7 linked regions of the Homo sapiens genome follow. The protein of the gene in region 3 interacts with the protein of the main gene of each other region in a biochemical or structural test. Each region holds a gene or a part of one and is shown on either strand. Other genes may lie near its edges.

Region 1 (3,500 bases), on a different chromosome or scaffold from region 3:
CCTGGGGTACCTTTCCCACACTCATCTTCAATGAACAATGAGTATCATCAAAGACACTCTAACCAGGATAGCACTTCCAGCCACCAGCCCCAGGCTTTGCCTCTGAATTATGTGTAATGCTTGGACTGGGAGACTCTTGGGTGAAAATACTCATATTAGTTAGCTCCTGTTATGCTTTCTAGCAGGGCTTAAATAGGTTTAATAGGTTAAACCCAAGCCCATTTACCATGGAGAAACTGGAATCACATGGCAAGACAAAGGGGCCTCGGGCTGGGAGTCAGGTCCCCTTATATCTGCTCCTGTTCTCCAACTGATGCACTGGGGGGTCCTGGGGATGCCCCCACACTTACTGCAGAGGTTTATTCACCTGTCAGGTGGGCACAGAGCCACTGGTGTGTACTTCCGTAGTCAAAAGATGAGACAAGGCCCAAGGCTGTGACAGCCATAACAAAATCACCCTTTAGGTCCCCAAAGGGTAACGCAAATGCAAGCATCTGTCCCACTCACCCTAACTGATGCCAGGTCCTTGTCCTCCTGATGAATCCAGCAGTAGGTTGTGAGTCAGCTGGTGCGGCAGAGGGGACCAGGACCTTAAATCTGCAGGGGACTCAAGCCACTGTCCTGTCCTCTCAAGCCTCATCTTTAAGGGGAAAAGGTTGGCCTGATCATGGTCCTTTCTGGTCCTTATGCTGAGTCCTTCATGAAAGCCCAGTGTGCTCCCATCAGGTGATGAGATGGGAACTGTGCTTGCCATTATTCCTCCTATTTAAAACTAGGTCTAAATAAGACATTTTGGACTTTGTCCTGAGGGAAGGCTTTGGAAATGAAAAAGAATTTGCAGGTTTGTTACCTCAAACTCAAAAATGATTTGGCTGCAGAAAGAACTGGAATGAATGTGTGCACGCTTCCCTAAGCAGCAGCATTCCGGCACTTACACCCGCCTGCTTCCCCTGAATGCTCTAGATAACATTGACATTTGCAAAGGGAAAAGCTTTTTTTCTTTTTTCTTTTTTTTTAAGATGGGAAAGAGGAAATCCTTTTTCTTACTAGAGATTTTTTTTCCCTTTAATCCTTTTCAAATTCAAAGGATCATCAAAGGAGCAGGTGCAGAAGCTCTGGGGCCCAGAGGCCCCCAAGTGCTACCCCTCCCTGGGGCTGGGGGTGGCGGGGCAGTGGGGAAAGGCAGAGCAGCCTGAGGCTTACAAAGGGCAGAGCCTAATTCTGCACGTCAACTTCCTGCTGCTTCTGCTGCTCAGTTCCCAGGAGGACAAGAAGCATTTTTCCTGTCAGCCGGGAACAAATTAGCATCTCTGATGAGTATTTTCCAACTCTAATCTCTCTCCCTCTCCCTCTCTTTCCTTTGTTTATGAAAGAAATCCCTCTGTTATGGCAACAATCTTTTCAAGGGAAAAAAAAAAAAAAAGAAATCCGGCTCCCACCTCTCGTATCGAAGGAAGACGTTGTTGAGGTCATCGTTCACATGCAGCAGCTCCTCGGTGACCTCCTCATTGGACACGCGGGAGATGAGCTCCACGATGCGCTGCTGCATGGCCCGACAGGTCCTGTTGAGCTCCTAGGGAACACATGCACCTCTGGGTAGCCTGCTGGGTGTGCTTTTCGTCACATTCTATCTCCTTTGAAAAAATTTGTACTGATTCTTAAAAGTCACAAAAGGAGTACATGCTTGTTCATAAAACCAGACATGTGCCGAATTCAAAGTAGAAGTTCCCTCTTCACTGCCTGCCCCTCCTTCCGCAGAGGAAACAAGTACTTTTTCAGCAGACAAATGTCCAGACATACTGTTGTATGTATACAAGTACATGCTTGTACAAATCATTAAAAAATATTAAAATGTGATTCTTTCCAGATTGCTTTTTCTCAACAAAATATTCCAGACACCGTTCTCCATCACTTGGTACAGACTGCCTCATTCCTTTCTGTGTGTTTCATAATGTATCTCGCCATTCTTCTATTGCTGGACATTTAGATTGTGGTCTCTCTTTTTGTGGCCAACCTAAATAATGCAGCAATGAACACCTGTACACACACATGCATATGCACTTGGGCAAGCACTTCCATAGGACAGGTTCCTTAGCAGGGAAATTTCTAGGTGAAAGGGTATGGTCATTTATAACATTAATTAGTAATAGTAAAAGGCCCTCCAAAAATATGACATCAGTTTACTTACACTTCCAGCAACAGCAGGAGTGTATTTTATGACTGCATTAGGTATATTTTGGTGGCACGTCTGCCACTTTGCCGAGACCTCAGAAGCCCAGGCAGCTCCCTGGCTGGCCGAAAGAGGAAATTCGCACACCCCCGGTTGCCCCTGGAGCCCTCTCTACCCTTAGAAGCAACATCCCCGTGACGACAGAGCCTTAGCACTTTATGGCCTGGCTTCCATGAGCCTTCCCTGTTCCAGAACAGCAGACTTACTGATGCCCTTGTTCAAACTTGCTTACAGAGCTCCGTCAATTCCTGCCAGGCCCCTTGCCATCTCGATGCCAGACTGAGGATGCTACAGAGGAGGGAGCTGGCAACACTGCCAGGCTGGCCCCCAAGCATGTGACCAAAGCTACAAGTCCCAGTGTGCCATACAGGGTTAAAGCAGAGGGAAATGCTGTTCCCACCTACCTGGGCACTGGAGGGTGCCAGTGAGTTAAGGGGATAAGACATGAAGGATAAGTCTCTCCTTCTCACAGCTCAGCCTCAAAACGACTTCATTTTGAAACCGTTTCTGGTAGAAGTAACTGATTTATTCACAGGAGACACGGCAATCTCTCTTTAGTTCCTCATATTGTCTCATAATCTTGCTAGCTTGGCTACAGGGTCTTCCTTCCTACCACATCATAAACTCTTGAGGGGGTGTTACCATTTATCCACTCAAGGATGCCCTCAAGCCCCGCACTGAGCCACACACAGTGAAAAAGCCCAGTAATCATCTGCTGAACACATCACCAAGGTGGTCAATCAGCCAGTGGGGAATCAAAGGCATCCCCCCTGCATGTCCCTGGTATCCTGCAACACAGCACTCACACAGGGGCTGGGCTTCTTATCTGCCCTCCCGTCTAGACTGAAGCTCCTTGAGGGCAGAGAAGGTATTTCCCTGGTACCCATGACACATGGGAGGCTCTCCCCAAGTACTTCTGAGAGAATTAATTAATGACTCTAAAGTATTCAGAGGCCGGGGCCAGGTGTGGTGGCTCACGCCTGTAATCCCAAAACTATTGGAGGCCGAGGCGGATGGATCACGAGGTCAGGAGATCGAGACCATCCTGGCTAATACGGTGAAACCCCGTCTCTACTAAAAACACAAAAAATTAGCCGGGCGTTGGTGGCGGGCACCTGTAGTCCCAGCTACTTGGGAGACTGAGGCAGGAGAATGGCGTGAACCCAGGAGGCGGAGCTTGCAGTGAGCCGAGATCACGCCACTGCACTCCAGACTGGGAGAGAGAGCGAGACTCCATCTCAAAAAAAAGTATTCAGAGGCCAAGTGCGGT
Region 2 (3,500 bases), on a different chromosome or scaffold from region 3:
TTTGTGGATTCTCTGTTCCTTACTGTATAGTGAGGTAAGTGAACTGAAGGGAAACTAATTTTAAAGTCAAAGTATGTTAAAAACACAAAAAACCTCTTAATAAATATTAAGCCACGTAACTGTCAGGGAAATAGAATGCTCAGGTGATTTAGTGTTTTAAGTGTCCAAGAAGGCAGCTGCTTTTCCAAACCAGTGATACAGTTTACTCTAAAAGTGACCCACCACACACCAAGAACCAAGAGAAATGGGCTCTCAAACTTGTCTTATAGGCAAGAGCTGAGGTCAGGTAGAAACAAGTATACAAAAAACACAGTGACCTCAGCTCTGTAGCCTCTCCCACCTGTTTCCTCATTTGAAAAATAAAAACACTGGACTGTTATTTTGGCCAGTGAATTTGTTATGGGAGTGAAGTATAAAAAATAAAGTGACTGAGAAAATGCCGAGAATATAAAAATGCTTTTAAGAATCTAAAATGGCCGGGCGCGGTGGCTCACGCCTGTAATCCTAGCACTTTGGGAAGCCAAGGCAGGCAGATTACCTGAGCTCAGGAGTTCGAGACCAGCTTGGGCAACACAGTGAAACCCTGTCTCTACTAAAATACAAAAAATTAGCCAGGCATGGCGGCGTGCACCTGTAGTCCCAGCTACTCGGGAGGCTGAGGCAGGAGAATGGCTTGAACCTGGGAGGTAGAAGTGGCTGTGAGTGGAGATCATGCCACTGCACTCCAGCCTGGGTGACAGAGTGAGATTCCATCTCAAAAAAAAAAAAAAAAAAAAAAAAAGAATCTAAAATGGATAAATGGATGCAAGGCATGGTAGCTCATGGCTGTAATCCCAGTAAGTACTTGGGAGGCCAAGGAGAGAGGATCACTTGAGGCCAGGGGTTCAAGACCAGCCGGGCAACATAGCAAGACCCAACCTCTACAAAAACTAAAAAAAATTAGCTGGGCCTGGTGGCATGTGCCTATGATCCAACTACTCAGGAGGCTGAGGCAAGGGGATCTCCTGAGCCCAGGAGTTTGAAGTCTCAGTGAGCTGTGATTGCGCCACTGCACACCAGCCTGGACAACAGAGTGAGATCACTTCTCTTGAAAACAAAAACAGAATCTGAAGTGGGAGGAGCAATTGGAATTATTAAATTATTAAAGGATTTGGTGACAGACTCTAATTATGTTTTCCTTATTCAAAAACAAGCCCCAAACTGAAGTAAATAAAATGTGAGGTATATGTAACTAAGTATACCTTACTACAGAGTGTATATAACTCATAGACATTCTTGCTCAAATGAGAATAGCTTCTGGAAGCACTTTGGCAAAAATAAAAAAAGGCCAAAGGTGGGGAAAAAACCTTCAAGACACAAAAACTGCAGTTCTCTCTCCCTCAGGTATGATCCAAGAATAGCTGTCTGCTTTGGAAGAATCCAGAATGGGTCAAGAGAATAGCAAATCCTGTGGCCCTGTATATGAATGATTCTAGATAGAATGTGGGATGTCACTGAGCAAAACTAGAGGTGGGGAAATTCATCTTATTCATATCACCTTGCAACACTACTAGAGTATTCTTTCCTTGCCCCCTAAAAAAGCTACTCAGGCTGGACTGGTAGTCAAACCTTTAGCCAGTGTTCTCAACTTTCCCATCTACACACCCTAAATAGCAGGGTTAGGACAAGGCGGCTCGGCGCTGAAGGCTCGCAGATGAATTAATTGAAATCTGTCTCAATTCTTGTGTGTGTTGTAGTATACCATAATATATTCATGTTTGCGTTTTTCAAATAAAATTTGACCATCCAAGAGGCTGAGTGATATACATCCTATCTTCACAAACCCCAGTTAAAGGGTTATGAAGTTAGAATATAATCAAAAGACTGTACCTTTTATTAAAGGGATGCTGTATTTGTCAACAGAAGGTGTTGAGAGGAGTTTCTTGGCCAGGACTGTTAAATCCTTCGATAAGGTTTTTGTTACAGTCGTCCAGGCTGAGATTTTCACTGGATCTCTTGGGGAATGTCGGGGGACCAGTGAAATCTAAGAGATCTTGAAGTGCTCGGGCATTACCAGTTCCATTTTGGTCCAGAGACACCCCAGGAATCATTTCACTCACTGGTGAAAATTCCGGGATAGAGATAAGCTCTTCTTTTGAAACAGGACTAGAAGAGATGAACGAGAGGGAGAGAGGCAGAAAGAGACAGACAGACAACATGGCACAATATATTAATTCTATTTGCAATATTTTGTTTTACTACTCTTCTAAAGAAGAAGGATTTAGAGTCAGAGTTTTTGTGTAACACACTGTAAAAAATACAAGTGGGCTCAAATCTGAGGAGGACAGATGGTGGACACGAGGCCCCATGTATGAGAACAGGGAAGCAGATTGAGCAGGGCTGTGATGGCCAAGGTCACATTGCCCAAAGGGTGAAAGGACAAAAACCCACAGGCACCAGCATTCTACCACAAAGAAGCAAGGCATTCCAGAACTTTCTAAATGGGACATTCAGACAGAAAGCCAATGCCAAAAGTTCAAAGCAAGTTGAAGAAGAACCCTAATTAACAGTGGGGCTCCCAGTGCTGCCTTTCTAGTAGTGCCACCTTGGGCGAATTGCTTTTCCTTCCTGCAGCCTCAGTTTCTTCGCCAGTAAAATGGGAACAATTGTTTCTCTCTGCCAGGGCTCCTGTGAGTGTGAATCTGATCGTGCTGAGAAGAGTTCATGTGGAAACGCCTGAAGTGCTCAGTTAAGGTTGGGGGGCCCATAATGAAAGGATCCCACCACAGCCCACGTCATCACTGGCAAAGCCAATCTCACGCTCTGCTTCCTCTCTAAAGTGAGGCTTCCAATCCACTCTGACTTATCCAGCTCCAGCCCAGCCAAGGCTGGTTTTCTTTCTCTCTCTCTCTTCCTCTCCCTAGAGATGGAAGGAGGAGTTTCATAATTGCGCCAGCTGTAAGGCCTAGCAAAGGAACAAATCCAGGCTCTGAAGAGTGGTGGGCTGAGGGCCTGTCACCAGGAATCTCTTAACAGCCAGAGTAAAGCTGCTGCCAGGTTCTTCTTTTTCTTCCTTGTGAGATCTTAGAGAAGAATCTAGAAAAACCAGAACTGCAGAAGCTCAGAGGAACTGTCTCTGGTGGAAATTCATCCTCCAGAGCTCCCATGGGGTCAGCTGAGAAGGCATCCTTGCTTAGCGAATTCCCTCCTTCCCCTTTCTCCTGAAAAACTCCCAAGAGCTTTCCTCTAACAAATCACATGCCCTAGAAACTCTGTTCCAGGCTCTGCTTCTAGGGAACCTGACGCAAGACACTAGAATGTTATACCACTGAGAGCTTTCCTGTAATGTCAATCAAACCTGCTTTAGGTGATTTGGTTGTATAAAAGACGAAGAAACCAACTAAAAGAAAGGGTAGTGTTTCGAGAAGTGATGAGGCTTAAATGCAAAAGAAATGAATATACCTCACATCCATAGACTGAACTTCTTCAGTTGAATCATCCAGGCTATTTGATTTCCCATC
Region 3 (4,098 bases):
GCACACAGAGACTGTCAGAGCTGTCAAGAGAACTTTATTCATTGGAAACTGGGCCAGAGACCCCTCACGAAGCTGCAAGCCCCTGGGCCCTGGGCCCTTCTGTATTTGGACCCTAGTGAAATGTGCACAGTCTGCCCTCTCCATGCCAGGGAGAGACAGAGAGGAATGCCATTTTTCTGTGTGATGTGGGAGTGACAGGGGAAAGAGCAGAAATCCGGTTATCCCTCCTGAGACTCCCAGTGAGCTGGGGTGCCACAGGGCACGTGGCCCCAAAGTCAGGTGCAGATGCATCCCCCATCCCAGGGGTAAACTCCTGAGACTGGCTTTTGGATCAGGTTGGGAGGGAGCCTCATCAGACGATCACAGGCAGAGGTGGCTCTGAGGGCACCCGAGAGATACTAACCCCAACGCCTACCAGGGCACAGGGGCTCTGGCTGAACACAAAGGTTTAAGATCATCCGAAGGCCCCTGAGTTGCCAAAACACCCAAATGACACTGATGTGTTGTGGCCGCAAAAGCTGGGGAGGAAATGTGAAGGAGGCAGGAAAAGGACCTATAGATCTCCAACAGAAAAACCAGAAGCAGACAGGGGTAACCCCAGAGGCATCTGGGTGGGCCCTGGGCAGGCTGGAGGAGAGCCCACAGCAAATAGTCTCAGGGCCCTTGCATAGTGACATACTCACCACCCTCAGCATCGAAGGGACCCACTGGGTAAAGAGAAGCCATGTTATCCTGCCCCCACCCAGATCATAGTCTTCCAACTCAATGTCCTGGATGTATGGCAGGATGGCCACAGGGGTAGGAGGGGATTCAGACCAGGACCCGGAGATGAGGTGTTAATGCTGTCCTAGCGTGAGTGCCTGCGTGGAGCATGGAGGGGTGGGCAGGCAGGGAAGGAGGCTTCAGAGGTAGACATTGAGGGTCTGCAGGATGCCCCGGCGGCAGAGCGGGCAATTGCGGTGGTAGACGGGGTGGCGCATCAGGATTTCAGTGCAGGCCTGGCACAGGCACAGATGCCGGCAGGGCAGGAGCAACACTGTCTTGCTCTGGTCCTGGCAGATGACACACTTCTTCCGCTCCTCTTGCTCCTTCAGCAATTTCCAAGGGTCTTGCCCACCTGGAGGCTCCTCCTCATTGAGCCTCTCTCGGCCCCTGACAGGTGTCACTCTGATGGTCCTGGCCTCCTCCTCTTCTGCCTCTGATCTGCGCCCCGCTTCAGGAAGAGTGTCCTGTCTCCGGGTCCTAACTGAGAATACCCTCATAGGGTCACCCTGGGGAGCTCCAGGTGCCCCTCCCCGGTTTGGCCAACTCGCCAGCTGCAGACTGCGGCTCCAGACTCGGCGCCAGGCCTCTGAGCCCAGTGCTAGGCGAGAGAGCCGCATGACATCCTCTCGAAGACGGTGGTAGGATGGCCGGGCATGGAGCTGGCTGAGTGCCTGGGTAGCCAGCCTCAGGGTGAAGTCCGGATGCAACACAGTCACCGTCACTGCCAGCACACAAGCTAGCAACACCAAGCCAGTGAGATTGACAAGCACAAAGCTGGCCAGGAGGCGGGCAGCTGAGGCCAGCAGCTCCAGGGCTAGTTGGCAGGGTGTCCAAAGGAGGATGGCCATGGCCACAGCACTGCTGGAAATGTGGGCTAGGAAGGCAGCCACTACGTCCGTCATCCTCCACAGAGGCCCGGTCACTGCATCCCACAGGGCCAGCACCAGGGAAAAGAGGTTCTGAGTGCCGATGAGGCAGATGTTGACCAGGCTGTTGATCACATAAGCCACCAGGCTCATGGCAATGGCACAGATGTCACAGGCCTGGCGCAGCAAAGCATGGCCACTGGAGACCACATTGAGGACGCCCCGGTGCAGTATCTCCCTGCTCCGCAGTGCCCCATGAGAGGCCAGGTGCCCCAGGAGCTTTAGGCTCTCTAGGCCAGAGCAGCAGCTATACAGCAGAGTACACAAGGCCTGCAAGCCCCCACATGTGAACCGGACCACGGCTTCGATCAAGGCCAGCAATGAAAGCAAGACTCCGCGGCCCAAGTGCAGAAGACTAGTCAGTACCGTGTGCGGCAGGTTGTAGACGAAGGCCAGGAGCCAGGCCAGGGAAGCCAGGAGGGAGGACACCAGCAGGAAGTTGAGGTCCAACACCAAGGTCAGCACGTCCAGCACCAGGCCCAACCCATTCACTACCAGGTACACTGCCTCCATGATAGGGCTATGGAAGTTAGTCCAAAACAAAGTCTGGCTCCTCGGTTGGGGGGTTGTCAAGGTTGTCAATATTTTAGGGGGTCTGGGATTAATTTGGAAGGAAAATGAGCAGTCTCCAACCCAGGGGGTACCAAGAATCTGAGGAAGAAGTGGGTAAGACGGAAGTGGAGTCTTGGTAGAGGGAAAGGTGGCCAGGTGCCAGTCCAAGAGTCCAGGTTTTGAAGATGGGCTGTTTGGGAGGGAAGAGGCCAAACATCTCTAAAGCGAAGGCGAGCCCAGGCCGTAGGAGCGACCTCAGCTTTGGATGCCTGGTGTGGCGAACCACGGCCGGGCAACGGGTCAGACCGGGAGGAGACGAGGAACGGATGGAATGGGATCGGATCGGATCGGGTCGCGTCGGGTCGGGCCGGGGCCGGGTGGGGTCGATGTAAGCTGGGCGCAGGCTCTCAGTCCAGCTACGCAGGTGCCCCTGTCCCCGCCCGGCCCCCGTCTTCCCGCTAGCGGCGCTTTGCACCCAAAAGGGGAGTGGGAGAGGCAGCCAGCTTCAGCAAACCCCAAGCGCAGCCCCTACTCCGCTGGGCGCCGCCATCTTGTGTGCAAAGGGGTGGAGCCAGAGGCGTGACGAGGAGGGAGGGACGACAAACTCCAGCCAATCGGTGAAGGCCAACCACAAAAACGTCGATCACTCATTGGTCCGTTTGAATGGCGCCCGAACGTATTTACTTTCCAAAGGGAAGGAGAGGCGACAGATTAAATCCCCTCCCCCTTTAGGCGGGGATTGGTTCGTTGGCGGGCAGCGTCGAAATACGCTCTCCTAGCCCCACCCTCTAAAAGAGCAGGGTCTTGGACTCCCCTCAATTTGGGAGCTGTTCTTTCTCCCGGCCTCTGAACGCGAGGTTTTTTTTTTGGCTTGGGTCGGAGGTCACTGCCTCTGGGCTGGGCTTTGGAATAGCACCGCCTTCGCAGCCTGCCCAGATCCGTCTCCTCATTCTCTTCTATTTATTCATCTATTCTATCATTTATTGAACTCCTACAGTGCATTGAGGATACAAAAAAATTTTAAGACAGTGCCTGCTGTTCACAAGGGAAAGCAGATTATTACAGGGGATTCCCAAACTGCTATTCCAAACTTTCCTCACCAGGTTTTTCAACATCTCGGAAGATTACTTCATTGTCATTGAGAAAAAGGGGCTACAGATTTAGAAACCGCTCAGCTTCCTACCCTGGGCCTTCCTACCCTAGAGTGCAGTGGCGCGATCTCGGCTCACTGCAACCTCTGCCTCCCGGGTTCAAGCGATTCTCCTGCCTCAGCCTCCCGGGTAGTACAGGTGCCCACCACCTCACCCGGCTAATTTTTGTATTTTTAGTAGAGACGAGGTTTCACCATGTTGGCCAGGCTGGCCTCGAACTCCTGAACCTCGTGATCCACCCGCCTCGGCCTCCCAAAGTGCTGAGATTACAGGCGTGAGCCACCAAGCCCGGCCCTGCCCTTTTCTTTAATACTCAAACAATAGTCAAAATATATTTGAAACCCCATCCCAAATATATTGGGAATCCTGGCGTTTTCTACTAACTCCAAGGATGCTTAGCAGACTCCTAGTGGACTTATCTTTCCCCTGGTCACCTTTGCTGAATTTCCTACTTGAGTTGAATTCTCCATCTCCACTCCTGGGCTCCTGAAAGTGTCCGTCCTCCTTCAGTCTGCCCTGAACACTGCCTCAGAGTCCTTCATTCTCCAAAGCATCACTGATAAGAAGCTGAGGTGTGCAGCAAACCTTTACTGAGGCCTTGGGATCGTGGTAGGGGTACGCTATAGTGCAGAGGAAGGACTGCAGTCGCTGAAACTCCTCTGGCTTCTTCCTACCCTTTCTCTCTCCCTGCTCTCAGGCCCTGG
Region 4 (4,256 bases), on a different chromosome or scaffold from region 3:
CAGAGTGCATGTCCTGTGAGAGGACCCCAGCTTCCTGTCAGGGGATGTCCCCAGTGAAGTCTGCAGTCCTCTGGTATTCCAGGATGGACACAAGGATTCCTCAGCAGCTGCCCACTCCCTGCTCACCTTGGTCTGGTACCAGGACTCAGCCTCAGCCCGGCTCCTCTGAGCAATCTCCTCGTATTGGGCCTTGACCTCAGCGATGATGCTGTCCAGGTCCAGGTTGCGGTTGTTGTCCATGGATAGCACCACGGATGTGTCTGAGATGTGGGTCTGCATCTGGGACAGCTCCTGCAGAACAGAAGGTCATAAGATCAACTTCACATCTGACATTTACAGAGATACCCAACCCTATACATCTTCTCCCCTTTGCAGACCCCATCAGAGTAAACAGAAGGATGGTGGAGATGCTTACTGCATCATACAAGGCTCTCAGGAAGTTGATCTCATCTGTGAGAGTGTCTGCCTTGGCTTGCAGTTCAACCTTGTTCATGTAGGCAGCATCCACATCCTGGGGAAAGAGCCAACAACCTGGAGTTACCTGAGCTCACCTTTCCAATCTACCCATCTTCTAGTCCTCCTGCCAATTCTCTCCCAGGGGAGCGAGGACACAGAGCCACTTCTCTCCTTCTAAATGAATTTGAACCCCCGGCTTCATCTGCTCACCTTCTTCAGAGTCACAAATTCATTCTCTGCTGCTGTGCGCTTGTTGATTTCATCCTCATATCTACAGGAAGAAAGGCATAGGACACATATGAGCCAGTGGGTAGGATGAAACAGAAAAGCAGCTTGGGATTCAACAATTTCCTGAATGGAATATATTCTAATTGAGCTTTCCTGCCACAGAGAGCCAAAGAGATGAGTTTTGCTACTACTAAATTTGCCACTTCTTTAATCCCCCCATCCTCCCATAACCATCTGTGGTTCTTGCAGGTTTGCTCCTAGGGACTAATTTGTGCTTTTCATTTCCATGGACATGGGTTGTTAGGAATCCTACACACATCTGGCCCTGGTCACCCAATAGTCTTGAAGTGTGTGCTGCAGGAAATGGAGTCCTCACTTGTTCTTGAGGTCCTCCACCAGGTCCTGCATGTTTCTCAGCTCCGAGTCCAGGCGGCCCCGTTCCCCGACGATGCTGTCCAGCTGCCTCCTGAGGTTGTTGATGTACTGCTCGAACAACGGCTCCAGGTTCTGCCTCACAGTCTTGGTGCCCTGCTCCTGCAGCAGGGTCCACTTGGTGTCCAGAACCTTGTTCTGCTGCTCTAGGAACCGCACCTGGAAGGGAAGCAAGATGGTCATTTTCCAGGCAAAGGAAGGAAGAAAAAGTGTCTGGTATCCAGTTTCCTGGCAGGTCTTGGAGGTCCCCATGGTGCTGGGCTACTACAGTGCATGTGGAGAGGCTCAGGCTGAGCTCTGCTCCCCCAACCCCTTCTCCTTTGCACCCCACCAGTCTCACTAGAGAAATTGTCCCATGGACCATTGAGGTGTTCTCACGCTGTAAGCTATTGATCATCAGTGAGTTTCAACATTTCTTCTCTTCTTTTTCCAGGCACAATCACAAATCTAGTTTAAAAATACTAATTACCTGATATATTGTACACAGTTTTTTTACTGATAGGATCTTAGTTAGGAGAGATATTATATGTTGACTCATGATTACATTTCAGTCTACTTTCCCATTTAGTGTCTCCTCTCAAATATTCTGATGTTATGGTCATTCTCTGTTTTTAAAATTAATTAGCATTTATCCATGTTTTACAGTTGTTTCTATGTCCCTTTTTTTCTTAATCCAGCCAGATTATCTTTTCCTTTTCTTTCTAAATCTTTTTCCTCTTACCCAGACCCCAGAGTGTAATTTACCAGCCCATATACTCCTGGCATTTGCTTTGTAATCTCTTAAACACTTCAGAGGGGAGAATTAACCTACTCCACTCTCTGATGGCCTCATCTGTGCTTCAGGGTTATGAAAAGTTACGGCTCTCCCTAGGCAGGAGTGAGGGCCACTCCAGAGATCCCATGGGGGAGTGATGCCCATCTGTGCTGCCTCCTGTGCACCGAGAGCCACCTGCACTCTCTGCAGAGCTGGGCTGAATCCCCTTCTCCCTCCCTCCTAGGTCTCCCTAGCAGGAAGGTGTTGCTCTTCTGGTCTGGGGACCCTGAAGTGCCCGATGGAGGGCATGGCACTGGCTCACCTTGTCGATGAAGGAGGCAAACTTGTTGTTGAGGGTCTTGATCTGCTCACGCTCCTCGGCCCGCACCCGCTGGATGGCGGGGTCAATTTGCAGGTTGAGGGGAGTCAGGAGACTCTGGTTGACGGTGACCTCTTGGATGCCTCCAGGGGGGCACACAGGGAAGCCAGGGCCCCCAAAGCCACCAGCAAGGCCGGCTCCACCACCCAGACCAAAGCCAATGCCGGCTCCACCACCGAAACCAAATCCACTCCCGGCGCCACCAAAGCCATAGCTGCCTCCGGCTCTGCTGCCATAGCCGCCACTGATGGCACAGCTGCCCCCTCCAATGGAGATCCTCTTGGAGCCCCCCAGGCCATACAGACTGCGGCTGCCAAAGCCAGCTCCTCCACATGCACCACCCAGGCCACCACTGCCCCTGGAGCGGGACACGGAGATGCTGCTGAAGCCAGAGCGGCTGACCCCAGGGAGCCTGGCTGAGTTGGCACTGAAACCCCGGCGGCTGCTGCTGTGGCTCCTGATGGTGGTGGATGTGCTGGCCATGGTTCCAGGAGATGAGAGGGCTGTGGCGAGCGTTGGAGGCTGGAGGCGAGAGGCAGGAGAAGCAGGACAAGGAATCGGGCTCCAGCAGTAGCTTATATATTATGAGAGAGCATGGGCTGGGCCCAGTCCTGGAAGGTGAGCTTGCAGGTTGGGAAGGGCTGGGCTTTACAAATAGTGAGATCACACCTGGATCAGAAAAGTTATGAAATGCTGAGATGGCATTTTTCACTTCCTTTAGTCAGGGAAAATGTTCCTGCCTCCAGCTTTGACTCGAGATTTCAGCACAGTAAGAGCATTCTCAGTTCATGAAGTTGAAGTTAGTCACTGTCTTCAGCAAAGGTTCTGCATGCTAGGCTGTTTATCAACATGCTGTGAGTGCTTTCCTCTTTCCAGCCTGACTTTCTTCCAGCAGAGATGTTGGAGATCACAAGCACTGTATTGCAAATGCCTTAACAGAAATATTAACATTTTTCCTGTAATTATTTTTCCTTCTGTGTGCAATTTCAAACATGTAGAGGAGCAGAACACAATGGGCCTGTATATACCTATTACCTGTTTCCATGATGATTACCTTATGGCCAGTCTTATTTCTTGTATATTTCCACCCGGTTCCCTTATCAATGTTAAATTTTTTTAAATCCCAAAAATATTTGGGATTTAATTCAATATTAATTCAATATTAATCTTTAAATGATAGACCTTTTAGAAATATAACTGAAATATTATTTTGTATTTTAAAAATGTATGTATTTATTAAGTCTTCGCCCTCAAGGAGTTGACTCTAATAAAGATGACAACACAAAAGGAGATAGAAGACATCACATCCAGTGGCATCACTGAGCTAGAAAGAAAGTAATGCTTTACTAGGAAGAAAAGAGCATAGAGAGGGGGTGTAGAGGGGACAGTGGGGAAGGGTAATTTTTTTTCTTTTTTTTTTGAGATAGAGTCTCTCTCTGTCACCCAGGCTGGAGTCCAGTGGTGCGATCTAGGTTCACTGCAACCTCCGCCTCCCAGGTTCAAGAGATTCTCTCACCTCAGCCTCCTGAGTAGTTTGAGATTACAGGTGGCCACCATCAAGCACGGCTAATTTTTTGTATTTTTAGTAGAGATGGTGTTTCGCCATGTTGGCCAGGCTGGTCTCGAACTCCTGACCTCAGGTGATCCACCTGGCTCAGCCTCCAAAAGTGCTGGGATTACAGGCATGAGCCACTGCTCCCAGCCAATTTGTGTATTTATTAACATCAATGTGTCTATTCAATTCTCCAATGTCCTTTTTCATTTATTTCCTTATTGTTTACAATTCTTTTGTTGATAAGACCAGGTTAATTGTCCTGAGTAGTGTTTCAGTCTTTGGGATTTCCTCATTGCTTACTCACAGTGTTTCATTTAAGATGCTACTGTGTCCTCTATATTTCCTGCAAACTGATCATTAAAACTTGAAGCTTAATAAGACTCTCATATACTTAGACTTTCCAGATGTGGATGTAGTAGAATGCCTATTTAAATACTGAAAATTGGCCGGGC
Region 5 (4,178 bases), on a different chromosome or scaffold from region 3:
GGGGCAAAAGGGCCAAGTACACAGGGGTCTCTGCACCTTCTTCTGGGCTCTTGGTGGCCTTGGGTCCCGCCATGTCAGTTCTCACCCACCCTGGGCAGCAGGCATTCAGGAGGATCTTGTCCCCTTTCCTCTGCTCACTCAGTTTCCTGGCGTGGATCCTGGACAGAACGGTGACGCCAATCTTCGTCACCCCGTATGCGCTGCTGGGCCAGCCCTCCTTCTGGTGCACTCCCTTCTTTGTATCCTCCACAAACTTGTTCATGAGCCCCACCAGCTCCTCCTCAGTGATGGTCTCACTGCGGAACTTCTGCTGCAGCTCTGGGCTGCAGCTTTTAAGGGCTCTGACGCTCATGATGCTAGATACGTTCACCACTCTCCCTAAGATACACCACAAAGCATTATGTAGAAAGGTGTGCAACAATCCCGTAGAGAGGTGAATGCCAAATTTGCAGGGATTTTGGAGCAGAAAATTTTCATATGAGAGACAGTTACTGGTATGAGTTCTAAGAGGAATACGCATAGAAAGTGTGGTGGTAGTTGCATGAAGAAGTTCATTCCTGCCTTCGAATTTTGGCTGAGTAGAGTCAGGTGAGATTTGGAAGAGCTGCCCTTTGAGGTCCTGGTGAACCAGAGCCTTAGAAGTAGCACAACTTAACAGGACGACAGGACAGGGAAACAGGATAAAAGCTGAGAGTAAGCTGTACATGCAAGTACCCAACTCGAAGCCACACATTTAAATTTTTCTAAAAGTGGCTGCTTAATTGCTGTGTTATTTAATGGGTGGGTTCATCTCCTGTCCCATTACTTAGGGTAACTATCACAGCAGTTTACAACCAAAGACATGTGATAGTCATGTCCAGCACCTTCAGCACGTTGAAGGGGAGTTAAAATGGGCCCAGAGTTAAGCAGCGGCAGATTATGGACATCTCTGTGAACCATGCTAAGGGCTTGGACTTTCCTCCTGAAGGATTTTGGGAGAGGCATGACCATGCAGACAGTACGCAGGATGCTGGGAAAGGAAAAGAGGAAAAGACTCAAGACCAGAGGTGCCTTGTGAGGGTTTGCAATTGTCCAGAGGGACAGGTGAGGGCCTGCTGTAGAGCTGCAATGAGACGGATTCAGGAGGAACTCAGTGGGCACAACTCCTAGGACCTAGTAAATGATTATGAGGGGTGGGGCATGGTGACCTGCAGGATCCTGGTGGGTGGGTGGTGGGGTCTGTGTCCCAAACGACTTAGGGAAAAGGATAGGGATCCTCTGGAAATATCTTAGATTGTGGGGAAAGGCATCAGGAAGAGATGGAAAGGCAGCAAGACAACCATGTGGTTGGGAGCTTAAGGAGTGTTTCAGACAGGTGACAGGTATTAGAAGGGCCTAATGAACTGGTGGTAGTAAAGCCTCCACCAGCCTGAATAAGATCTCTCTGAAAGAGCAGAGAAAGGGTACAGGATGGACTCCCACGCAGAGGGGAATGGAGCAAATAAAGAGCATCTCTCAGGAGACGTTTGAGCTAAGACCTGAAGGATGAGAGTCAGCCAGGTGTGCAAAGACCAGTGCGACAGGGAGGACGAATGGCCATGGGAGTGGGAGAAGTGAGGACAAAGTCCTGAGGCAAAATGGCACATATCAGCTGGCAGGAGAAAAAGCACAGAGGTCAGTGCACGTGCAGCATGGAGAGGAAGCAGGAGCCTGCAGGAGAAATCCCAGGCAAGCAGGGGCCAAATCAAGCCCCAAAGAGAAGGTGCGCTGTTTCCCATCAGACTCACCTTGGGGTTTTATTAGAGGGAGTAATTCTGTGCACACATCTCGGGTACCAAAGAAATTTGTTTTCATCGTCACTTCAGCTTGAATATGAAAGGGTGTGGGATCAGCAACTTTTAGGAGAGAAAGAGAACATAGTTAATACATTGTACCCATGGGGTAAAATTCTATACAATGATACTAAAAAAAAAAAAAAAAAAAAAAAAAAACTTAGTGCCCTCTGCCTAAAGTAAGTCTGTATCTGGTTACAGTATTGTGCCAATGTCAATCTCCTGGTTTGATCATGTTCTAGTATTTTTGTAAGATGGCACCATTGGGGGAAGGAGGATGAAGGGTGCACACACTGGATCTTGGCATAACCATTTTTTCTTTTTGCAATTTGTCGTTTATTTTAAAATCAGTTCAAAATCCATCCAGTTGCCTTAAAGCTCAATTCAGAAAAACTGCAGAAAACCTGAAAAAGATCCCCAAGAGTCCCAGCCAGGGAAACACAAAGTTCCCTTTGGCTGGAAAACTCTCACTTTCTCCAAGGTTTCTGCACTCCCTGCATCTCCTAGCTCCTCCCTCTCCTCCCTAGGGAGGCGTTATGGACCCCGCAGACGCCAGGAGCCCCAGTGCATCGGTTCTTCTTCGGGGAGGCCACGTCCCCTCCCCATACCCTTGAAGGCGATGCCCGCGTTGTTGACCAGCACGTCCAGGCCCCCGTACTCCTTGCGCAGGAAGTCGCGCAGGGCGCGGATGCTCTGCAGATCGTCGATGTCCAGCTGGTGGAAGCGCGGGCTCAGGCCCTCCGCCTGCAGCTGCTGTACGGCCGCCTGGCCCCGCGTCACGTCCCGCGCCGTGAGCACCACGTCCCCCGAGAACAGCCGGCACAGGTCGCGCACGATGGCCAAGCCGATGCCCTTGTTGCCTCCAGTCACCAGCGCTACATGGATGCCGGACGACATGGCTGAACGGGGCGCGCGGAACACCTGCGTGGAGAACAGACCTGGCTCAGGCCCGGGAGCCCCGCAGCGTGTTCCAGAGACTGCTCGAGTCTGGCGGTCGTGGGCGCGCACCCGTGGGTTACACGCCCGGCCGCTGAGCGCGCAGGCGCAGGCCCCGCCCTAGCGGGGCGGGGCTGAACCATCCCTACCCCTCCCCACCGGAACCTCGCCGGGGTGCGGAGCAGGCGGAGAGCCAGCTAGCCTGACTTTGCAGAACCCGCAGGCCGAAGACCGAGGCTGGTCTCTAGCTACTGGCTGTTGGCTGCCCACGTGGCAGTGAAGAACCATTCCTAGTGGCCATGTGCCTAGATCTGAACTCACTGCTTGCCCTTGGTTCTCTGAGGGGTTTTCTTCATATTCTCCCAGCTGTTCAATCATTCCTAGTTGTGTTTGAAGAAATAGTACATTTGCATGGTTTTTTTTTCTTTTTTTCCTGGTGTTCTAAAAAAAAAAATACTGCAGGAACTGCAGTCTTTGGAGCTAGAGTTGCAGAAGAAACTGGAAGGAAATAACAGGGCATCAAGTTTTTGTTGATTTTCCCCCTAAGTATATGAAAACAAAGCTACTGACTTAGCCAGATTTTCCAATAATGGTGGGAAACATTCACTAAATCTTTATAAGGTTACTTCTCTGGGCATTTGCAGGGCCATCAGTTTATCTGTGCATAGGTGTAGGGGGTTTCACAGCCCTATTTTACACGGACAATAACACTCTAGGATGTACCTTTTAATCCCCATCTTAAAATGAAGAAACAGGGATCCATCCTCAGAATTTATAACTTAGTTCAGTGGTGGGAAATTGTTAGAGAAATGCCAGGAGTTTGGTCTAGGTCTGGTGGTTCACAGCACAGAAAGCCAGTCACTGAGACCCCATTATTGTCAGGGAAGAAGGCATTATTTGGGTGCTACAGCCTAGGGGGGAGAGATCAGTCTCAAATCCATCTTCTCAACTGATTAAAATTAGGATATAGCAGGGAAGAAATGTAACTGCATGTGGGAAAATAGCAGGAGTTAGGGAGAGATGAAGAGGAGTGGGTCAACAGGCATCAGGCAATTGTTGCAGGTGAGGGGTCTGGTGTCTGATTTTCCAGATGTGGTGATCCGATAAGTTTCAGTTCCTTGGTGCTATCTGGGAGGACTGATGGCTAGTTCCCTGAGAAAGGAACTCAGATAAGACAAATGTAAATTTCTCAAGTTTTTAGACTGGGAGGGTCAATTTGTTTATTCAAAAGAGACCAGGCCTGGCGCGGTGGCTCACGCCTGTAATCTCAGCACTTTGGGAGGCTGAGGTGGGTGGATCATGAGGTCAGGAGTTCAAGACCAGCCTGGCCAAGATGGTGAAACCCCATCTCTACTAAAAAAAAAAAAAAAAAAAAAAAATACAAAAATTAGCTGGGTGTGGTGGCAGGCGCCTGTAATCCCAGCTACTTGG
Region 6 (3,500 bases), about 120 Mb from region 3:
CACGACGGCACAGTGCAGAGCACGTGTCACCTGACAGGGGCGTGAGGTTCTCCTGCACAGAGCTGGGCACAACGGGGTTTCAAAGCCACATTTCCACATCTCTGAAAATTTCAACTCACCTCATTTCTGCCAACAATTAGAAAAAAAAAAAAAAAACAATTCTATTTTCTAGATATGCAAACAAAATTCAAACGTAAGCCTTGGCTTCCTGGCCTGAAAGGATCTGTGTGCGGTCAGCACGTCTACAGGATTCTAGAATGGATGACGTCCCCACCCCGGCGCTCTAAGCCCCGTTCCCTCCTCCCGCACCTGCCCTAGGCCCTGGGGTTTCTACCAGGGGAGAGGCACCCAGGGAGGGAGCACACGCACCTGTGATGGGCACATAGCCAACGCCCTGCTGGTACACTGTTGGCATCAGGACCACGGGCTGGGGTGGCATCACCATGGCAGCTGGAAGCAGCTGAAACACAGCGGAGATGGTCCCGGGGTCAAGGAGGAACATCCACCCATCAGAACCTCGGGAATCGCCCTCCCCACAATTGCCCTCCCCACGCCAGCCCAGAATCGCCCTCCCCATGCCAGCCCAGAATCACCCTCGCTACACGAGCCCTGAGTGCACAGGGGACGCTGGGCCCTGCTCCCACCCCTGCACCACCTCCTCAAATCCAGGAGGTGACATGGCTCGGGCTTACAGACCCCCTTCTAACTGGGATGTGACTGAGAGAGGATGGTGACAGGAGGGACATCCCAGTGTAGGTGTCGAGTCGGCCTGGGGGGAACCACACTGCACTGCTGTGGTGTCTGAGTTTGAAAGTGTCAACTTCACATAAGTCACTGCACTGCTGTCAACTCTGAGTTCAAAACTGTCCACTGTGGATAAGTCACTGCACCACTGTCACCTCTGAGTTCAAAACTGTCAACTGCGGATAAGTCACTGCACCGCTGTCGTCTCTGAGTTTAGTTCAAAACTGTCCACTGCGGATAAGTCACTGCACTGCTGTCTCCTGAGTTCAAAACTGTCAACTGTGGATAAGTCACTGCACCGCTGTCATCTCTAAGTTTAGTTCAAAACTGTCCACTGTGGATAAGTCACTGCACTGCTGTCTCCTGAGTTCAAAACTGTCCACTGCGGATAAGTCATTGCACTGCTGTTGTCTCTGAGTTCAAAACTGTCAACCGTGGATAAGTCACTGCACTGCTGTCGTCTCTGAGTTTAGTTCAAAACTGTCCACTGCAGATAAGTCACTGCACTGCTGTCTCCTGAGTTCAAAACTGTCCACTGCGGATAAGTCACTGCACTGCTGTTGTCTCTGAGTTCAAAACTGTCAACTGTGGATAAGTCACTGCACCGCGGTTGTCTCTGAGTTCGAAACTGTCAGCTGCGGATAAGTCACTGCACCACTGTCGCCTCTGAGTTCAAAACTGTCAGCTGCGGATAAGTCACTGCACCGCTGCCGTCTCTGAGTTCAAAACTGTCAGCTGTGGATAAGTCACTGCACCGCTGTCTTCTGAGTTCGAAACTGTCAACTGCGGATAAGTCACTGCACCACTGTCGTCTCTGAGTTCGAAACTGTCAACTGCAGGTAAAATCACTGGAGCGTCATGATGGTTCTGTGTTTGTATGAAAGCGTCTGTTAAAGACGTGTCATGAGACATTTACACATCGTCACTCACGGCCGGGACATGATTTAAAATATCCCAGCTTTAACAAAAAGGGGGTGGGAGGAGCCAAGATGGCCCAGAAAAGCAGCTCCCTGCTGCTGCCTCCCCGCCGCAGCCTCCCCGCCGCACCCTCCCCGCCGCAGCCTCCCCGCCGCACCCTCCCCGCCGCAGCCTCCCCGCCGCACCCTCCCCGCCGCACCCTCCCCGCCGCAGCCTCCCCGCCGCAGCCTCCCCGCCGCAGCCTCACCGCCGCAGCCTCCCCGCCGCAGCCTCCCCGCCGCACCCTCCCCGCCGCAGCCTCCCCGCCGCACCCTCCCCGCCGCAGCCTCCCCGCCGCAGCCTCCCCGCCGCACCCTCCCCGCCGCAGCCTCCCCGCCGCACCCTCCCCGCCGCAGCCTCCCCGCCGCAGCCTCCCCGCTGCACCCTCTCTGCCGCAGCCTCCCCGCCGCAGCCTCCCCGCCGCACCCTCCCCGCCGCAGCCTCCCCGCCGCACCCTCCCTGCCGCAGCCTCCCCGCCGCAGCCTCCCCGCCGCACCCTCCCCGCCGCAGCCTCCCTGCCGCACCCTCTCTGCTGCAGCCTCCCTGCTGCACCCTCCCTGCTGCACCCTCTCTGCTGCACCCTCTCTGCTGTCACATCTGCCTGGCATTTCCCACAGCACCATTTTTCAGTAACAGCCTGAAAATCCTCTGGTTGATGATACAGACGAGACGGCAGGAGCTCTGCGTCTTGGAGCCTCTAACTGGCCCTCCTGATGCCCCCAGGAGCTGCAGGTGCCCTGAGAATGGAGATGGCTGGGAGCCAGGGCGCTGACGTGCTGGCCCCACAGCCAGGCCTCGACTTCCTGACCCTGAGCACAGCAGCCCCCAGGCTTCCCCGACATCTCCAGAGATGCCCTGCCACACCACGGCCAATGCCTGCCCTGTGGGGAGGAGCCTGGTGTCCTGCAGGGCCCAGGGCTGTATCTCAGACCCTGGAGGGCTGCTCAGCTGGACCCTAAGGGCAGAGCTTGGAAGGGCTGTGGGGGTCCTCCGAGGACACAGGGGCCTGCAGTGGAGACCACCACAAAGGGTTGGCTCATCTTAGGAACACAAACAACCCCTATGCTGTTTCCCCAGACAGAGAACATGGGCAGGAGCAGTGGGCAGGGCAGCCCCTCTCTGCCACCAAACCACCCAGGGCCCCTGCCCTCTGTCCTCAGAACGTGAGCCCTGCTGTTTTATGGGCTCAGTGCCTCCAGGAAAGAGACAAGGGTGTCTGTGGGGCGGCATAGCCCCGACGTGCTCCAACATACCCCAATGCGCCCCACCCCGCCCAGGCGTGCAGCTCACCGCGTAGGACATGACGAGGTTGATCATGCCCTCCTTGTCGTCCCCCTGCCTCCCGCTCAGGCTGTACCACTTGTCCTCCACCTTGCCCTGCCTCAGGGACTCCGGGATGGTGATGTGGGTCCAGGCAATGCGGTCGTCCATGGAGAAGGCTCTCTGCGGGAGACAAGAGGGAGAGGCCCCAGGCATCAGGGAAGGGGCCACCCTGCCCCTGCAGCCGCACCATCGTGGGCCCGCCTCGAGTCCCCGTCTTATCTGTGGAACAGGGCTCCCACCTGCACCAACACCCCATCGATGAGACCCCTCGGGCAGCGCAGGCTTCACGATCGTATATCAGCCTCCGTAGGGGACTTCTTCCCTCTCTCCACCAGGATGGGCCAGGGCCAGGGCCAGGGCCAGGTCTGGGGCTGGGGAAAGCGAGGGCCCTGGGCTGCTGTCCTCCTTCAGTTCCACTTCAGGGACACTGGCTGCTCCTCCCCAGCCCTCGGGGCCCCATCCTTGCTCCACCGGCT
Region 7 (3,500 bases), on a different chromosome or scaffold from region 3:
AGTTTCTAGAGTCTGTTTAGGATACTGAGATGAGGGAAGCTAGTCTGTTAATTTCCTTCAGTTAATTACATTTAAAAAATTTTTGGACATCTTTGTTTAATGACGGCCTTACACTGCACTGTGAGTTCTTTTTCTATATCCTTACAAAAATTTTTGTCACCTTGGGTCCAGAGGACACTGCAGAGAATGGGCATCCTGACAGTGCAGAAATTTAGTATTCCAGGCTGTGGAGATTTTCTACTTAATGAGATTTACAGATTCCAGTGATACATCAAGGGTTTAAATAAACCATTTCCCCTCTAAATATTTGGAACTGAGAGATATTACCTCAGATTCTGACTCTTACTAAGTCATCATTCTCTTTTTAACTGCCAGAGGTTACAGTCTTATCACCCTGTCAAAACAATTAGACTATTCAATGGAATATTGTCTTTGGTAGAATTTAAAACAATGTGTCTTTAATAAAACTGAAAGTGAAAAATCTTCTTGGCTAATTCTGTGGTGTACTTTAGGAGGCATAATAGTGGAGAAAATTTGGTCTCTTGAAATTTGAGCACATCCCACTGTATTATTTCACTGTATGGCAAAAGTGAAGGAGGTAGGCATGTTCTGTCATCCTTAATTAAGCTTTGGGCTGCTTATTGAAGTATCATTTTTTCTATAGATTGGAACATGGTTTATATAGCAGACTATCTTGTCCACTGACATTGCCCAGTACTGAGTTCCTTATCTAATTTCATTTTCTCTGAAATCTGCCTTCCTAGTTCTGACTAAGCTAAATAACTCAGGGAGATTTATATTCTATTTCAGATGGTCCACTCTTGGGACTATGCCACTGTTTTTTTGTTTGTTTGTTTGTTTGTTTTTGCTGTCCCAAACCACTTAGAAATCTAGATTAAGCCCAGCCCAGCATAAGACTCCGTGGCTCTAGAGTTGATTTGAAGTGATCTGTGCAATCAGGTTCTATTAGGTCTGAAGCTAAGAAAGCCATGTTTACTAGTCTGTCTTTGTAGGAAATACAGATGTGTATGAGTCTGTGGCTTCTGAAGCCGCAGAAGCCAGGTTGAAAGTTGTACAAAGGTGGGCTTCACAAAATACTTACATTCTCATCATTTGCCCAGTGTTTACTTGTATTTTATTTTTTTAAAGATTAACAGCAAGTGAGTCAAGTGTGGTGAGGGATTTTGACAAAAATCATTTTAATTTACAGTAATTTTAATGGACATAATACACTAAACAGGTGATGCCAATATTAATTGCAAGTAAGAATGAACTGGGGAGATTTAAAACAAACTTACTCAAGGACAGGGCACACCCAGGCTACTTAATTTAGAATCTGTGGGGGTTGGGGCAAATATTTTTATACGTGTTCAAAGCACCCTCATGTGATTCGAATATATAGCCCTGATTGACAACCCCTGGCATAAAGAGACAATCAGGAGTACATTTTCTTTCTCCTCTGAATAGTTAATTTACTGAAATGAACTATTTCAGATAAGTAATCTTGTTCACTGTATTCAAAATTTTTATTAATTCTGAATATAATACACTCACACTGTCAAGTAAAAGTTTAAAGCCAGAATTGCTTTATAGGAATAAATTGGAATAGAACTCTGGTCATTGTGCTCTCAATATAGCTCTGATTATATTTTCCCTAAGATGTCACAGTGCTATCAGTCTGATCAAAGCTGTGGGGAAGTTCTAAAGCGAGTGGGTTTATTTACTCTCAGAGGAAAAGCCATGGCAGGACCACTGCTTGTCTCACAGGTATTATCACATGACTGCCAGGTGCTGCTGTTCCTGCTCCCTCGGAAGTAGTAAGTATGCAGGCTGAGATAAATAGAAAGAAGCCTCTACTCTCCTCCAGCCTTGACAGCTTAGCCTCTTTTAAACTCTGACTCTGTAATTTGCTTTTCTTTAAATTATTTTTGTTTTCAATGACTTTTTTTTCACTTTGTATTTTTCCAGGGCCTCACTTGCAACTTCTTACATAAATTTCTGCTGTTGCAGAAACTATGTGAGAGGGGACTTTTTACCAGGCAGGCTTGCTTAGATATCTTTGTTTAAATGTATGCATTATCTACATTGCCACTTCCATTCCTAGGGCAAAAATATTTTTAATGCACCCCACACTGTATTCTGGAGTAGAGGTAGTATTGTCATTGTTAGCTACTAAAGAAAAATCTCCTTTATCTTAAATTTCTTAACTTTTCAGAAAACATCCTCGGTTGTTTTATTACATTGAGTTTTTTTTTTTTTTTAAAGGAATGAAGCCAAGAGTGATGAAAGAAGCTGTATCTACTCCATCACGAATGGCCCACAGGGATCAGGAATGGTATGATGCTGAAATTGCCAGAAAACTGCAAGAAGAAGAACTTTTGGTGAGCAAATTTTAAGGCAAAAGTTTAGATATATTGATGGGTATTTTTTTTGTGAATCTAGTCCATCTTGAAATTATATTAATAGTCCTCTATCAATTGAGAAACCTTTTTTTATGAGTGGAAAAATCATGACAATAGGAATAGAGTATCCACTTTTGCTTAGTGAGTAAGCATTAGCAGCAAAGTCCATAACTCCATTTCTCCATCTCCATGATTGTTCTCCATAACCCTGCTGTAGGATTTGATAAAAAGAGCTCCTGCTCTGGCTGGTGAAAGCATACCAACTGATTATCAACCTCAGGAACATGAGTCACAATTATTTTCAAAAACCAGCTTATTTTGTACAAGATACTGAAAATGCACAACATAGATTCCAATTAAATTCTTTGTTTTTGTATTTTCGATATCATAGGCTACCCAGGTGGACATGAGAGCCGCTCAAGTAGCTCAAGATGAAGTAAGTTAATGAGTTTAGCTGATATTCTTTGGAAATATCCTAGTATATTTCTATCTGCACCTCTGCAGTTAATGATATTGACTGTATTTTGTTTAGGAAATCGCTCGACTTCTAATGGCTGAAGAAAAGAAAGCTTACAAAAAAGCCAAGGAGCGGGAGAAATCATCTTTGGACAAAAGAAAGCAAGACCCCGAGTGGAAGGTAGAGTGTGTTTTGTTTGTTTTCTAATTAGAAATAAAATTAGAAATGAAAAGGGGACTCTGCTTTTGAGTTAAGCTCTGCAAATATATTTAGGATATATGAATATATAAATTATCTGTATTGCATATGTGAATCTGATCTGTGAAGATTCCATCACCATGAAAAATCACTGAATTTTGGAACATATGTAAAAAGTTACTGCTAAGATTGAAAACTCATTCTGTTCCCTTTAAGACGGAGTGAAATGCAAGTGCTTCTGGTCATGAACAGTCTTAGTTTTCATATACAGTACTTTGATTATAGAAGAATATAGCATTTTCACATGCTTTCATATTTTCCACAATGAACTTCTCTTCCCGTCTCTACTTTCTTTGTGCTTACATTATCTTTCATCTCTATCATGTATCCGTTTCTCTTTCCTTTGATGTAACATGGTTTGTGGCAGACTGAAAGATACATAC

The links.
Region 1: the proteins of RNF26 (region 3) and TOM1L2 form a complex in vitro, tested with the Homo sapiens proteins (one large-scale study listed by BioGRID).
Region 2: the proteins of RNF26 (region 3) and MAP7D2 form a complex in vitro, tested with the Homo sapiens proteins (one large-scale study listed by BioGRID).
Region 4: the proteins of RNF26 (region 3) and KRT6C form a complex in vitro, tested with the Homo sapiens proteins (one large-scale study listed by BioGRID).
Region 5: the proteins of RNF26 (region 3) and CBR1 form a complex in vitro, tested with the Homo sapiens proteins (one large-scale study listed by BioGRID).
Region 6: the proteins of RNF26 (region 3) and TOLLIP form a complex in vitro, tested with the Homo sapiens proteins (one large-scale study listed by BioGRID).
Region 7: the proteins of RNF26 (region 3) and CCDC50 form a complex in vitro, tested with the Homo sapiens proteins (one large-scale study listed by BioGRID).

What each region holds. Positions count from the first base shown.
Region 1 is NC_000017.11:17,867,901-17,871,400, forward strand, and holds part of TOM1L2 (TOM1-like protein 2), read right to left. Parts: intron 1,574-3,500; coding exon 1,440-1,573; intron 1-1,439. UniProt on the Homo sapiens protein: Acts as a MYO6/Myosin VI adapter protein that targets myosin VI to endocytic structures. May also play a role in recruiting clathrin to endosomes. May regulate growth factor-induced mitogenic signaling.
Region 2 is NC_000023.11:20,008,908-20,012,407, forward strand, and holds part of MAP7D2 (MAP7 domain-containing protein 2), read right to left. Parts: coding exon 3,442-3,500; intron 2,146-3,441; coding exon 1,896-2,145; 3' UTR 1,870-1,895; intron 1-1,869. UniProt on the Homo sapiens protein: Microtubule-stabilizing protein that plays a role in the control of cell motility and neurite outgrowth via direct binding to the microtubule. Acts as a critical cofactor for kinesin transport.
Region 3 is NC_000011.10:119,333,229-119,337,326, reverse strand, and holds RNF26 (E3 ubiquitin-protein ligase RNF26), read right to left. Parts: upstream 2,801-4,098; 5' UTR 2,205-2,800; coding exon 903-2,204; 3' UTR 18-902; downstream 1-17. UniProt on the Homo sapiens protein: E3 ubiquitin-protein ligase that plays a key role in endosome organization by retaining vesicles in the perinuclear cloud.
Region 4 is NC_000012.12:52,471,006-52,475,261, forward strand, and holds the start of KRT6C (keratin, type II cytoskeletal 6C), read right to left. Parts: upstream 2,801-4,256; 5' UTR 2,733-2,800; coding exon 2,193-2,732; intron 1,276-2,192; coding exon 1,061-1,275; intron 728-1,060; coding exon 667-727; intron 512-666; coding exon 416-511; intron 292-415; coding exon 127-291; intron 1-126.
Region 5 is NC_000021.9:36,068,646-36,072,823, reverse strand, and holds the start of CBR1 (carbonyl reductase [NADPH] 1), read right to left. Parts: upstream 2,801-4,178; 5' UTR 2,709-2,800; coding exon 2,420-2,708; exon of another isoform or gene 2,339-2,419; intron 1,875-2,338; coding exon 1,767-1,874; intron 1,010-1,766; coding exon of another isoform or gene 885-1,009; exon of another isoform or gene 379-884; coding exon 1-378. UniProt on the Homo sapiens protein: NADPH-dependent reductase with broad substrate specificity. Catalyzes the reduction of a wide variety of carbonyl compounds including quinones, prostaglandins, menadione, plus various xenobiotics.
Region 6 is NC_000011.10:1,285,633-1,289,132, forward strand, and holds part of TOLLIP (toll-interacting protein), read right to left. Parts: exon of another isoform or gene 3,264-3,500; intron 3,145-3,263; coding exon 2,992-3,144; intron 461-2,991; coding exon 370-460; intron 1-369. UniProt on the Homo sapiens protein: Component of the signaling pathway of IL-1 and Toll-like receptors. Inhibits cell activation by microbial products. Recruits IRAK1 to the IL-1 receptor complex. Inhibits IRAK1 phosphorylation and kinase activity.
Region 7 is NC_000003.12:191,377,894-191,381,393, forward strand, and holds part of CCDC50 (coiled-coil domain-containing protein 50 long isoform), read left to right. Parts: intron 1-1,767; coding exon of another isoform or gene 1,768-1,781; exon of another isoform or gene 1,782-1,817; intron 1,818-2,265; coding exon 2,266-2,381; intron 2,382-2,793; coding exon 2,794-2,838; intron 2,839-2,934; coding exon 2,935-3,039; intron 3,040-3,500.